2 separate regions of the Homo sapiens genome follow, and region 1 is linked to region 2. Evidence: fine-mapped QTL for protein levels in blood plasma. Region 2 holds a variant in brackets. A gene starts in the other region. All regions are shown on their reverse strands.

Region 1 (5,370 bases), not on the chromosome of region 2:
AAGAAAAAAAAGAAAAGAGATTTCTTTAGCTCACAATTCTGGTAGCTGCAAAGTCCAAGAGCATGGCGCCAGGCTGTTCAGCTTCTGGTGAGGGCCTCATGCTGCCTTATGACATGGAGGAGAAGCAGAAAGGTGAGCAGGCACGTGCTGAGTGAGGGGACCAAGGAGGCTGACCCACTTCATAACAACTTGCTCTCTCAGGAGCTAATCCATTTCCATAAGAACGAATACAATCTCCCAGGAACAAGAACTCACTCACTATCTTGAGAATGACACCAGTCTATTCATGAGGGATCCACCCCAGTGAGCCAAACACCTCACACTAGGCCCCACCTCCACACTGGCAATTAAACTTCAACATGAGTTTGGGCGGGAACAAACCACATCCAAACTGTAGCATCCTCCTAGACTAGCCCTTGGAGGTGGGCTGCCTCCACAAAAGGAATGCAATTTTTGATAAAGTGGTTTTGTTGGCTGAAGACAGTTGCTGGACAGGGACTCATTCAAGAGTTGGCCAGCAACCCTCCCAGCAGCTGGGGGAGTGAGTATCTCAGTCCTGAAAGGTAGCATACCAGAGCATCCACTACACCTGCATTTTCTGATTTTTTTTTCTATTTATTTGTTATTTTTCTAGAGATGGGGTCTCAGCTGTGTTGCCCAGACTGGTCTCAAACTCCTGGGCTCAAGTGATCTTCTCACCTTGGCCTATCAAAGTGCTAGGGTTATAGGCATGAACTACTGCACTCAGCCTGCATTTTCTGATTTCAAAATGACACTATCATCCACTATCTGATCTTTTCCACTCCTGACAGCTCTCTTTTTTCATTTGCTACCCAAGTCTTTTCCTTTCCTAGTGACCTTATAAAATATCATCCAGGCCAGGCACAGTGGCTCACGCCTGTAATCCCAGCACTTTAGGAGGCTGAGGCGGGAGAATCACTTGAGGTCAGGAGTTTGAGACCAGCCTGAACAACGTGGTAAAACCCTGTCTCCACTAAAAATACAAAAGTTAGCCACGTTTGGCAGCATGTGTCTGTAATCAAGTGGCTGAGGCACGAGAATCACTTGAATCCAAAAGGTGGAGGTTGCAGTGACCTGAGTTAGTGCCACCGCACTCCAGCCTAAGCAACAGGGTGAGACTGTGTCTCAAAAAATTTAAAAAAAAACATAATCCAGGGCCAGAGGCAGTGGCTAACACCTGTATTCCCAGCACTTTGGGAGGCTGAGGTGGGAGGATCCCTTGAGCCAAGGAGTTCAAGACTAAACATAGGGAGATCTCGTGCTCTCTCTCTCTCTCTTTCTCTCTCTCTCTCTCTCTCTATATATATATATACACACACACACACACACACACACACACACACACACATCATGCAGGTACAGTTTTGTATCATCTGTTTCAAAGGGCAACGCACTAAATAAAGCTGTACTCAACTTTTGAAAGCCCTCTTTTAAGATTAAAAAACTTCACAGGGTCCAGGCACGGTGGCTCACACCTGTAATCCCAGCACTTTGGGAGGCCAAGGTGGGTGGATGCCGAGGTGGGCAATCACGAGGTCAGGAGTTCGAGACCAGCCTGGCAAACATGGTGAAACCCCATCTCTAAAAAAAAAAATACAAAAATTAGCTGGGTGCAGTGGTGCACACCTGTAGTCCCAGCTACTTGGGAGGCTGAGGCAGGAGAATCACTTGAACCTGGGAAGCGGAGGTTGCAGTGAGCCAAGATTGAGCCATTGCACTCCAGCCTGGGTGACAGAGTGAGACTCCGTCTCAAAAAAGAAAAAACAGAAATAAAACAAAACAAAAAAACTTTACAAATCTCCACATAATAGTATCATAGTAGTAACTGAATGAATGCCCATTACAATAAATAATAAAAGCTATTATAAACTTGTTAAACTGGTTTAATCATGTGAACACCCACATATGTATGACACAAAAAAAGATAAGTATTTATATAAGGACATTTCTTGTTCTGGTGAGAGAGACAATGCTTGGTGTGCACACAAGTTCTTCAACTACCTGGATTAGGATGCTGCCTATAATTGTGTACAATAACGGAGTAGTCAGCTGAGGGGCAAGTGGAGATAGAAATCCAGCCCAATCTCTTATCACCAAGTTTTTCATCCCACCAAGGGCTGAATGTACCTGCAGAAAGGTGGCATTTTTTTAAAATCAATTGCCAAAACAAGATACCACTCAGGTCTCTCTTTTCTATTTAACATTAAGGCACCTCTATGCCAGCCCTGAACCTGCCCAGTGACTGATCACAAGCTTTGAGTCTGGAGTCAGTCCAAGATGTGGATTATGGCTTTGCCACTTACTTGCTATTAACCTTTGTTGTAGTCTGAATGTTTGTCCCCACACCCCCAAATTATAGTTATTGAAATTATAACTCCCAAGGTGATGGTATCAGGAGGTGGGGCCTTTGGGAGGTGACTGGTTCAATAGAGTGGAACCCTCATGAATGGGAGAAATGCCTTCATAAAGGAGATGGCTGGAGAAAACTAGTTAGCCCTTTCCACCAAGTGAGGTTACAGCAGTAAGACAGCTGTCAATGAGGGAGTGAACCCTCACCAGCCACTGAATCTTATGGTGCCTTGATCTTGGACTTCCCAGCCACTAAAACTGTGAGAAATAAATTTATGATGTTTATAAGCCACCCAATCTATGGCTTATAAACATAGCAGCCAAAATGGACAAAGACCACTTATCCATCAGCTTGTCTGTTTTTTTGTTTGTTTGTTTTTGAGACGGAGTCTCGCTCTGTCACCAGGCTGGAATGCAATGGCGTGATCTCAGCTCACTGCAACCTCCACCTACCGTGTTCAAGCGATTCTCCTGCCTCAGCCTCCCAAGTAGGTGGGATTACAGGCACCTGCCATCATACCTGGCTAATTTTTGTATTTTTGTAGAGATGGAGTTTAACCATGTTGGCCAGGCTGGTCTTGAACTCCCGACCTCAGGTGATCCGCCCACCTCGGCCTCCCAAAGTGCTGTGATTACAGGCATGAGCCACCGTGCCCAGCCCAACTTGTCTGTTAAATGAGATCATAACATCCCCCTCTCTGTGGTTGTGCTGTTCCTTCAGGTAGCAAATGGATACCATCTATTTTCATAGATCTTGTTTTATCAACTGTATTGTGGTATAATTTACATACAATAAAATATACAAGCATTAAGTATACAGTTTGATAAGTTATGGTAATGTAAACCGGTGACCAGATAGATAACCTGTGTGTTTTTTATACTGTCCAGAGATTGTATCAGACTCTGTGGAAATTACAAAGTAGCATAAAGCATCCTTACTTTGGTTAAACCCTTGATTGGGTTAGGCCTGGGATGTAAGTTCTCACAGCCCCCTACTTCCTCTGCATAACCACACATCACATTGTCTGTCACTCTCCTAGTCTGTAAAGCTACTTGAGGGCATCTCGAGCGTTTTCCCTGCTGTATCTGCAGGCATCTAACACAGTGCGTGGACATTCTGTAAGCATTTGTTGCAAGATAAATGAAAAAAACGTACAAAGTTAACAATGGATATCATGCTGAGTTTGTGCCAAACAAAACAGTCATTTGAAGAAGACCCGGAACAACCTTATGGGTTAGTAATTAGTAAAGACCAGTAGAGAAGGTGGCCTTTGAGAAGGGTCAGGTTTCAATAGGATTAAGGAGCATTTCAGAGCTAAACCAAGTACTTGGAAGAGATAAAAGCAGTGGGCTCAGGCACCAGCCTAGCCCACTGTGCATGAAGCTTGGTGGGGCTAAACATGATTATCAGTCCTTTAACTTTTATTGAACGCCTTCACTTCCAGATTTCTAAGTGGGGCTCAGGAATTATAATAGATGTCCACAGCTGCATGGTCTTCTCTCTCCACAACACGCAGACACTATTAGAAGTAAAAGCCACGTGTCCTCAAGAGGGCAAGGCAAAGCATCTTCAGATGTCTCTGCCCTTAAAGCACACGCGTTCTGCTCTGCGACGAAGCAGGACAAGGAGGACAGGGACCTGCACCTCCGGAGGCCCGCACCTACGAAGATAGCGGGCTCGGGACCTTCGGTGGACCGGCAGGGTTCCAGAGGCCCGCGCGCCGCCGCCCCGCCCTCATTGCTGAGCCTGCCAGGTAAGCAGCCCCAGCGCCGTGCCCGCGCGACCTCTACTCCTTCCGGGAGGGTCGCGCTCACGTCTGAAGTGGGAGCAATGCACCGGGACAGGGACACCTCCTAGGCCATGCCTGTTCCAGTCCAGTTCTGCCTGAAAGTCCGGCTGGCTCATCACCTGCCTAAATAAAACCGTATACGGGCAAACTCCCTCCGCAAGCAGCGCGCCCCAGCACCGGAAGTGACGCGTTACGTGCCCGCGTATTCCTACCGGCGTATTCCCGCCCTGCTTTTCGCCCGCCGTTCCGTGGCGGGAACTGAGGCGACTGTGGGGACATCAGTGATCGTAAGTCTCCTGGGCCCGTTATTCTCAGATTAGGTGACGGAGCTAAGACTTCGAGACCATCTCGTCCTTTTTGTATCGCGGAAACCTGAGGAACGAGCCGGCGGCGGTGACCTGCACGAGAAGCCAGGCTAACTGGTAACCTGCTGGAGGAACTGCAAGCCCGCTTCGCCTTCCCCACTCCTGCCCTTGATGCCCCTTGTGAGGTCTTCCACCTCCTTCGGGGCCCCAGCCTAGTGGCCCTTTCATGCCCTGGCCGCGCCCTTTGGTGAAATGGTGGTTCCGGACAGCATCTTGCAGGCCCCGGCTTTGGGCTGTATTAATGTTTAACAGCCCGAGGCAGGGATGGACTAATCCAGTAACGTTATAAAAACCTTGGCTGCTAACAGATATTAAAAATTTATTTTATTGAGCATATCCCCATATGCCAAGCAAGGAACTATGTATTTGCATACATTCTTTTATTTAACTCAGTTGTCCTGTGGAATAGGCCTTAGCTCCTTTAACAGAAAAGGAAACCGGGTATCATAGATGGTAATTCATTCACCAAATATTACGGAGCATCTACCATGTACCAGGCACTGTTCTAGGCACCAGGGCATGTAGCAGTGAAAAAAATAGAATTAACCGGGGACTTTTCAGGCGAGCTAATGATGCTTTTTATCCCTGAAAACAGCCTGGAAGAATGTTTACCTGCATGTTAGAAATAGTTACCTTCTGGGTGGGATTTTGTATTACTTTTTTAAATCTCTCATGCTTTTATGCATTGTTTTGATTTCTTCAAGTGAGTGTGTTATGAGAAAAACAGCTGTTTCTATTTTAACAACAGAGTCCCCCACCTTCCCTTCCCCACAGAAAGTCTCTGAAGGTAGGTAAGCATTGACTCTGCCATGAAAATAGGTCCCTGGCCAGGCGAGATGGCTCAC
Region 2 (5,381 bases):
GAATTCAGAACCTCAGGGAGAATCAGAATCTCAGGCAGAGAGCCTGGGAATTCACATCACAACCTTTGATTCTAATGCCTGCAAAAGTTTGAGAACCATTGTCCCACAGCTACAGACTGGAGAGGAAAGGCCTAGGTTACTGATATGAAGGGATTTTCCCTGGGGCTTGGAAGGGAAGAGCTTCCAAGCCCTTGGTAATTCTGTATACAGCCCCGAGTCTTTCATCTAAAGATCTTAAAGAATGTTACAGGCATCAATTAACCTTTCCAGCACCCTAGACTGAAAATCCAGGCTCTTGGCCCTATTTTACTGACAAAAACTCAAACCTATGGTTTAGAGCCAAGAAAGGAATATCTTGGCTCACGTGACCTGAACTGAACAAGCTAAGGGGACTACAGGTACGCATCACCATGCCTAGCTTATTTTTTTATTATTTTTGTAGAGATGGAGTCTCACCCTCTTATGCAGGCTGGTCTCAAACTCTTGGGTTCAAGCAATCCTCCCACCTTAGCCTCCCAAAGTGCTGAGACTACAGGCATGAGTCACTGCTCCTGGCTGACAGTGGTTCTTAATCTGGGGACTTAAATTTATGTGTATATGTGTCACTCCTTGACTGTAGGCAGATGATACTTTCACTTACTCCTTGTCACTCAAGTCTCAGCTTAAAGGCAATCCCCTCAGAGAGGTCTTCCCTGAACACCCATCTTAAGTAATGTTTTCTATCATATCCTATTTTAATTTCTTCAGAGTACTTGTCATTATCTGAGATTATCTTACCTTTTCTTTGCCCCTCCTTCACTACAAGGTAAACTCCATGAAATCAGAAACCTATCTGACAGTACATTGTTGATGTTCAATAAGTGTTTGTTGAATGCTTAAATAAGCAAGTCTAAATGAAGATGTTTTCAACAATATGTAGATGCTGTTGAAATGAGTAAAATATACATTTATTTTTAAAGTCTAAATTTAGGGTGGGCACAATGGCTCATGCCTGTAATCCCATCAGTTTGAAAGGCCAACGTGGGAGGATTGCTTGAGTTCAGGAGTTTGAGACTAGCCTGGGCAATATAGCAAGACACCATCTCTACAGATAATTTTAAAAATTAACCAGGTGTGGTGGTGTGCACCTGTAGTCCCAGCTGCACTGTAGCCCCTCGGTCCCTGTAGTCCTGTAGCCCCTCAGCCTAGGCAGGCAGAGGCAAGAGGATTGCTAGAGCCTGTGAGATCAAGACTGCAGTGAGCTATGCTTGCACCACTGCACTCCAGTCTGGGCAACAGAGCAAGACCCTGTCTCAAAAATAAATTAAATAAATAAAAAGAAAAACCCTGATATGATAGTCTAAGTAGCTATCGATTGAGAGAAATACGTGCCCAGAGTATCACTTGGCTGGGTGCAGTAGCTCATGCCGTAATCCCAGCACTTTAGGAGGCCAAGGCGGGGGATTGCTTGAGCCCAGGAGCTTGAGACCAGTCTGGGCAACATAGCGAGAACCTATCTCTAAAAAAAAAATTATTGGCTGGGCACGGTGGCTCACGCCTGTAATCCCAGCACTTTGGGAGGCTGAGGCAGGTGGATCACCTGAGGTCAGGAGTTGGAGACCAGCCTGGCTAACATGGAGAAACCCCGTCTCTACTAAAACTACAAACAAATTAGATGGGCATGGTGACAGGTGCCTACAGTCCCAGCTACTCGGGAGGCTGAGGCAGGTTAGTCACTTGAACCCCCAGAGGTGGAGGCTGCAGTAAGCCGAGATCATGCCACTGCACTCTAGCCTGGGCAACAAGAGTGAAACTCCAGTACTTTTTTTTTAAGTATAGTTTAAATTTAGACTTTATTTTGAGACAGGATCTCTCTGTGTCACTCAGGCTGGAGTGCAGTGGTGCAATCACAGCTCACTATAGCTTCAAACTCCTGTGCTCAAGTGATCCTCCCACCTTAGAGCACCCCTTGCCCCATCCCCACCCCCACCCTGAGTAGCTGGGACGACAGGATGTGCCACCATGTCCAGCTAATTTTTTATGTTTTTTTTTTTTGTAGAGACAGGGTCTCACTATGTTGCCCAGGCTGGCCTTGAACTCCTGAGGCCGCAAGCGATCCTCCCCACTCAGCTACCCAAAATCCTGGGATTATAAGGCATGAGGCACTGCGTCCAGCCAGGGTTTTTCTTTATAATATTGAAAAAAGGGTTGGTACAATTTCCATTTCTGACATTGTATGGATTATAATTTCTGAACAATCTTCCCCAAAAAACAACTAAAATGATAGGTTAAATATAATTTTTAACTTTAAAATTCATAATGAGATAACACAAAAGTAAAGAGTTAGAATGACCCCAAGACAAATTAACCAAAATCAATTCTCCCTGAAACATTTTCTTAACTCCCAGTTTTGATTCCATATCACTGGCCACTCCTCAGTCTTCTCCTTTCCTGGTTGCTCCTCTATCTCTTAACCTTTTAACAGTGAAGAGTTCTAAGACTTGGTCCTTGGATCTGTTCTCTGATTGTACTTCCTTGGCAATCGTATATAGTCTGTGTTTTCAATATAATTTGTACTCTAATAAAATTATAAATTTTATCTCTGACTCAGATTTCCTTCTGTACTTCAGATTTGCATGTCCAGCTGCCCATTTGACATCTTTACTTGATTGTCTAAAATGCATCATACGGCCAGGCATAGTAGCTCACGCCTGTAATCCCAACACTTTGGGAGGCTGAGGCGAGTGGATTGCTTTGAGGTCAGGAGTTCGAGACCAGCCTGGCCAACATGGTGAAACCTGTCTCTGCTAAATAAATAAATAAAAATAAATAAATGGGCCGGGCACGGTGGCTCACGCCTGTAATCCCAGCACTTCGGGAGGCCGAGGCGGGTGGATCATGAGGTCAGGAGATCGAG[A/C]CCATCCTGGCTAACACAGTGAAACCCCATCTCTACTAAAAATACAAAAAAATTAGCTGGGCATGGTGGCGGACGCCTGTAGTCCCAGCTACTCAGGAGGCTGAGGCAGGAGAATGGCATGAACCCGGGAGGCGGAGCTTGCAGTGAGCTGAGATCATGCCACTGCACTCCAGCCTGGGACACAGAGCCAGACTCCATCTCAAAAATATAAATAAATAAATAAATAGCATCATAATGCCCAAATATGAACTCAAGTCAATGGCAATTCCATTCTTCCTGTTGCTGAGACCCAAAACACGGGAGTCATCTTTGACCTCCCTTTTTCTTATATCCCAAGCAAGTAAAGGGAGGAAAGTGGAAAAGAAAAAGTACAAAAATAGCTCGATCCATCTAAAATAAGGTAAGAAAAGGAGAAAAGAGGAACAGAAAAATAGGAAATAAAAAGCAAATAAAACAAAATCAAATATATTAGAAATTACTCTAAATGTAAATGTACTAAATTTTCTAGCTAAAAGATGGATTGTCAAATTGGATTTAAAAACAAAAAACCTGGCCAGGCATAGTGGCTGGCGCCTGTAATCCCAGCACTTCTATAGGCCAAGGCAGGAGGATTGCTTGAGCCCAGGAGTTTGTGACCAGCCTGGGCAACATAGTGAGACCCCATCTCTACAAAAAATTTTAAAAAGTAGTCAAGCATGGTGGCACACACCTGTGCTCCCAGCTACTCAGGAGGCTGAGGTGGGAGGATCACTTGAGCTGAGAAGTTTGAGGCTGCAGTGAACCATATTTGTGCTACTGCACTTCAGGCTGCATGACAGGTGAGACCCTATCTCAAAAAAAAAAAAAAAAAAAACAAATTAGCTGGGCATGGTGGTGCATGCCTGTAATACCAGCTATTTGGGAGGCTGAAGCAGGAGAATCTCTTGAACTCAGGAGGCAGAGGTTATAGTGAGCCAAGATTGCACCATTGCACTCCAGCCTGGACAACAAGAGCGAAACTTTGTCTCAAAATAATTAATTAATTAATTAATTAATTAAAAAAAACAAAAACAAAATCCTGGGCCAGTGCAGTGGTTCACACCTATAATCCCAGCACTTTGGGAGGTCAAGGCAGGAGGACTACTTGAGGCCAGGAGTTTGAGACCAGAATGGGCAACATAGTGAGACCCTGTCTCTACAAAAATTAAGAAAAAATAAATAAATAAGCAGAGTGGCCAGGCACGATGGCTCACGCCTGTAATCTCAGCACTGTGGGAGGCCAAGGCGGCTGGATTGCCTGAGCTCAGGAGTTTGAAACTACCCTGGGCAACATGGTGAAACCCCGTCTCTACTAAAATACAAAAAAATTAGATGGGCATGGTGGTATGCACCTGTAATCCCAGCTACTTAGGAGGCTGAGGCAGGAGAATTGCTTGAGCCCGGGAGGTGGAGGTTGCAGTGAGCCAAGAACGTACCACTGTACTCTAGCTTGGGCAACAGAGTGAGACTCCATCTCAAATAAATAAATAAAAAATAAATAAATAAATAAGCAGGGCACGGAGGTGTGTGCTTGTAGTCCAAGCTACTCAGGAGGCTGAGGCAGGGGGATCTCTTCAGCCCAGGAGGTTGAGGCTGCAGTGAGCCAAGATCATGCCACTACGCTCCAGCCTGGGTGACAGAGTGAGACCTTGCCTCTAAAAAATTTTTTATGTAAAATAAAATAAAAGTAAATACAAAAAAAACTAAATCTGACCACATGATGATTACGAAAAATACAGGTAAAATATAAGAACACAGAAACACTAAAATTCAAAGAATGGAAATATATAATATAGGTAAATTCTAATCACAAGAAAGCTAATTTAACTATATTTCTAGCAGACAAAATAACTATTAAGCAGAAAGAATTACTAATCACTACAAAATAAAATCATTACAAAATAATAAAAGGATCAATTAACCAGTAAGATATAACAATTCTAAACTAGAAAGCACTCAAAACACAGCATTTAAAAATACATAAAAGCAAAAATTGACAAATTCTTCAAGGAGATAGTGACGAATTTATTATCATAATAGGTTTATTAAAATACCTTCCCTAGTACTTGCTAGTTCAAACAGGCCGAAGAAAGTCATGCCATATATAGAACATCTGGAACAGCACAGTTAGTAGGCTGGCCTAATAGAAATAGAAAATTGGAGGGCCGGGCGCAGTGGCTCACGCCTGCAATCCCAGCACTTTGGGAGGCCAAGGCAGTTGGATCACCTGAGGTCAGGAGTTCAAGACCAGCTTGGCCAACATGGTGAAATCCCGTCTCTAGTAAAAATACAAAAATTAGCCGGGCGTCGTGGCAGGCACCTGTAATCCCAGCTACTCCGGAGGCTGAGGCAGAAGAATCGCTTGAACCCAGGAGGCGGAGGTTGCAATGAGCCGAGATCCCGCCACTGCACTCCAGCCTGGGCGACAGAGCGAGACTCCGTCTCAAAAAAAAAAAAAAAAAAAAAA

Which allele goes with the higher level. Positions count from the first base shown, and alleles are read on the strand shown. Strength reflects both the effect of a copy and how common the allele is.
With allele A in place of C in region 2, the plasma level of the protein whose gene starts at base 4,390 in region 1 is lower (weak association).

The links. PIP is the chance, under the fine-mapping model, that this variant and not a neighbour inherited with it causes the effect. The UK Biobank Pharma Proteomics Project read protein levels with antibody pairs (Olink). The fine-mapping took linkage between variants from a reference panel, not from the people measured, so its PIPs are less certain.
Region 1: it holds the start of RFC4, and the variant in region 2 is fine-mapped to the plasma level of the RFC4 protein (UK Biobank, PIP 0.97).

Annotation. Positions count from the first base shown.
Region 1 is chr3:186,805,502-186,810,871 of GRCh38, reverse strand. RFC4 (replication factor C subunit 4) reads left to right here and starts at 4,390. Exons shown (of 11, transcript NM_002916.5): 1 at 4,390-4,582. RefSeq lists enhancers at 3,611-4,222, 4,223-4,834.
Region 2 is chr5:140,377,378-140,382,758 of GRCh38, reverse strand. The region is part of intron 1 of ANKHD1-DT (ANKHD1 divergent transcript); the gene reads left to right. It overlaps LOC124901087 (a long non-coding RNA gene), which reads right to left and starts at 2,724. Exons shown (of 2, transcript XR_007058967.1): 1 at 1-2,724. RefSeq lists a silencer at 525-644. The variant A/C (reference allele first, on the strand shown) is at 2,897.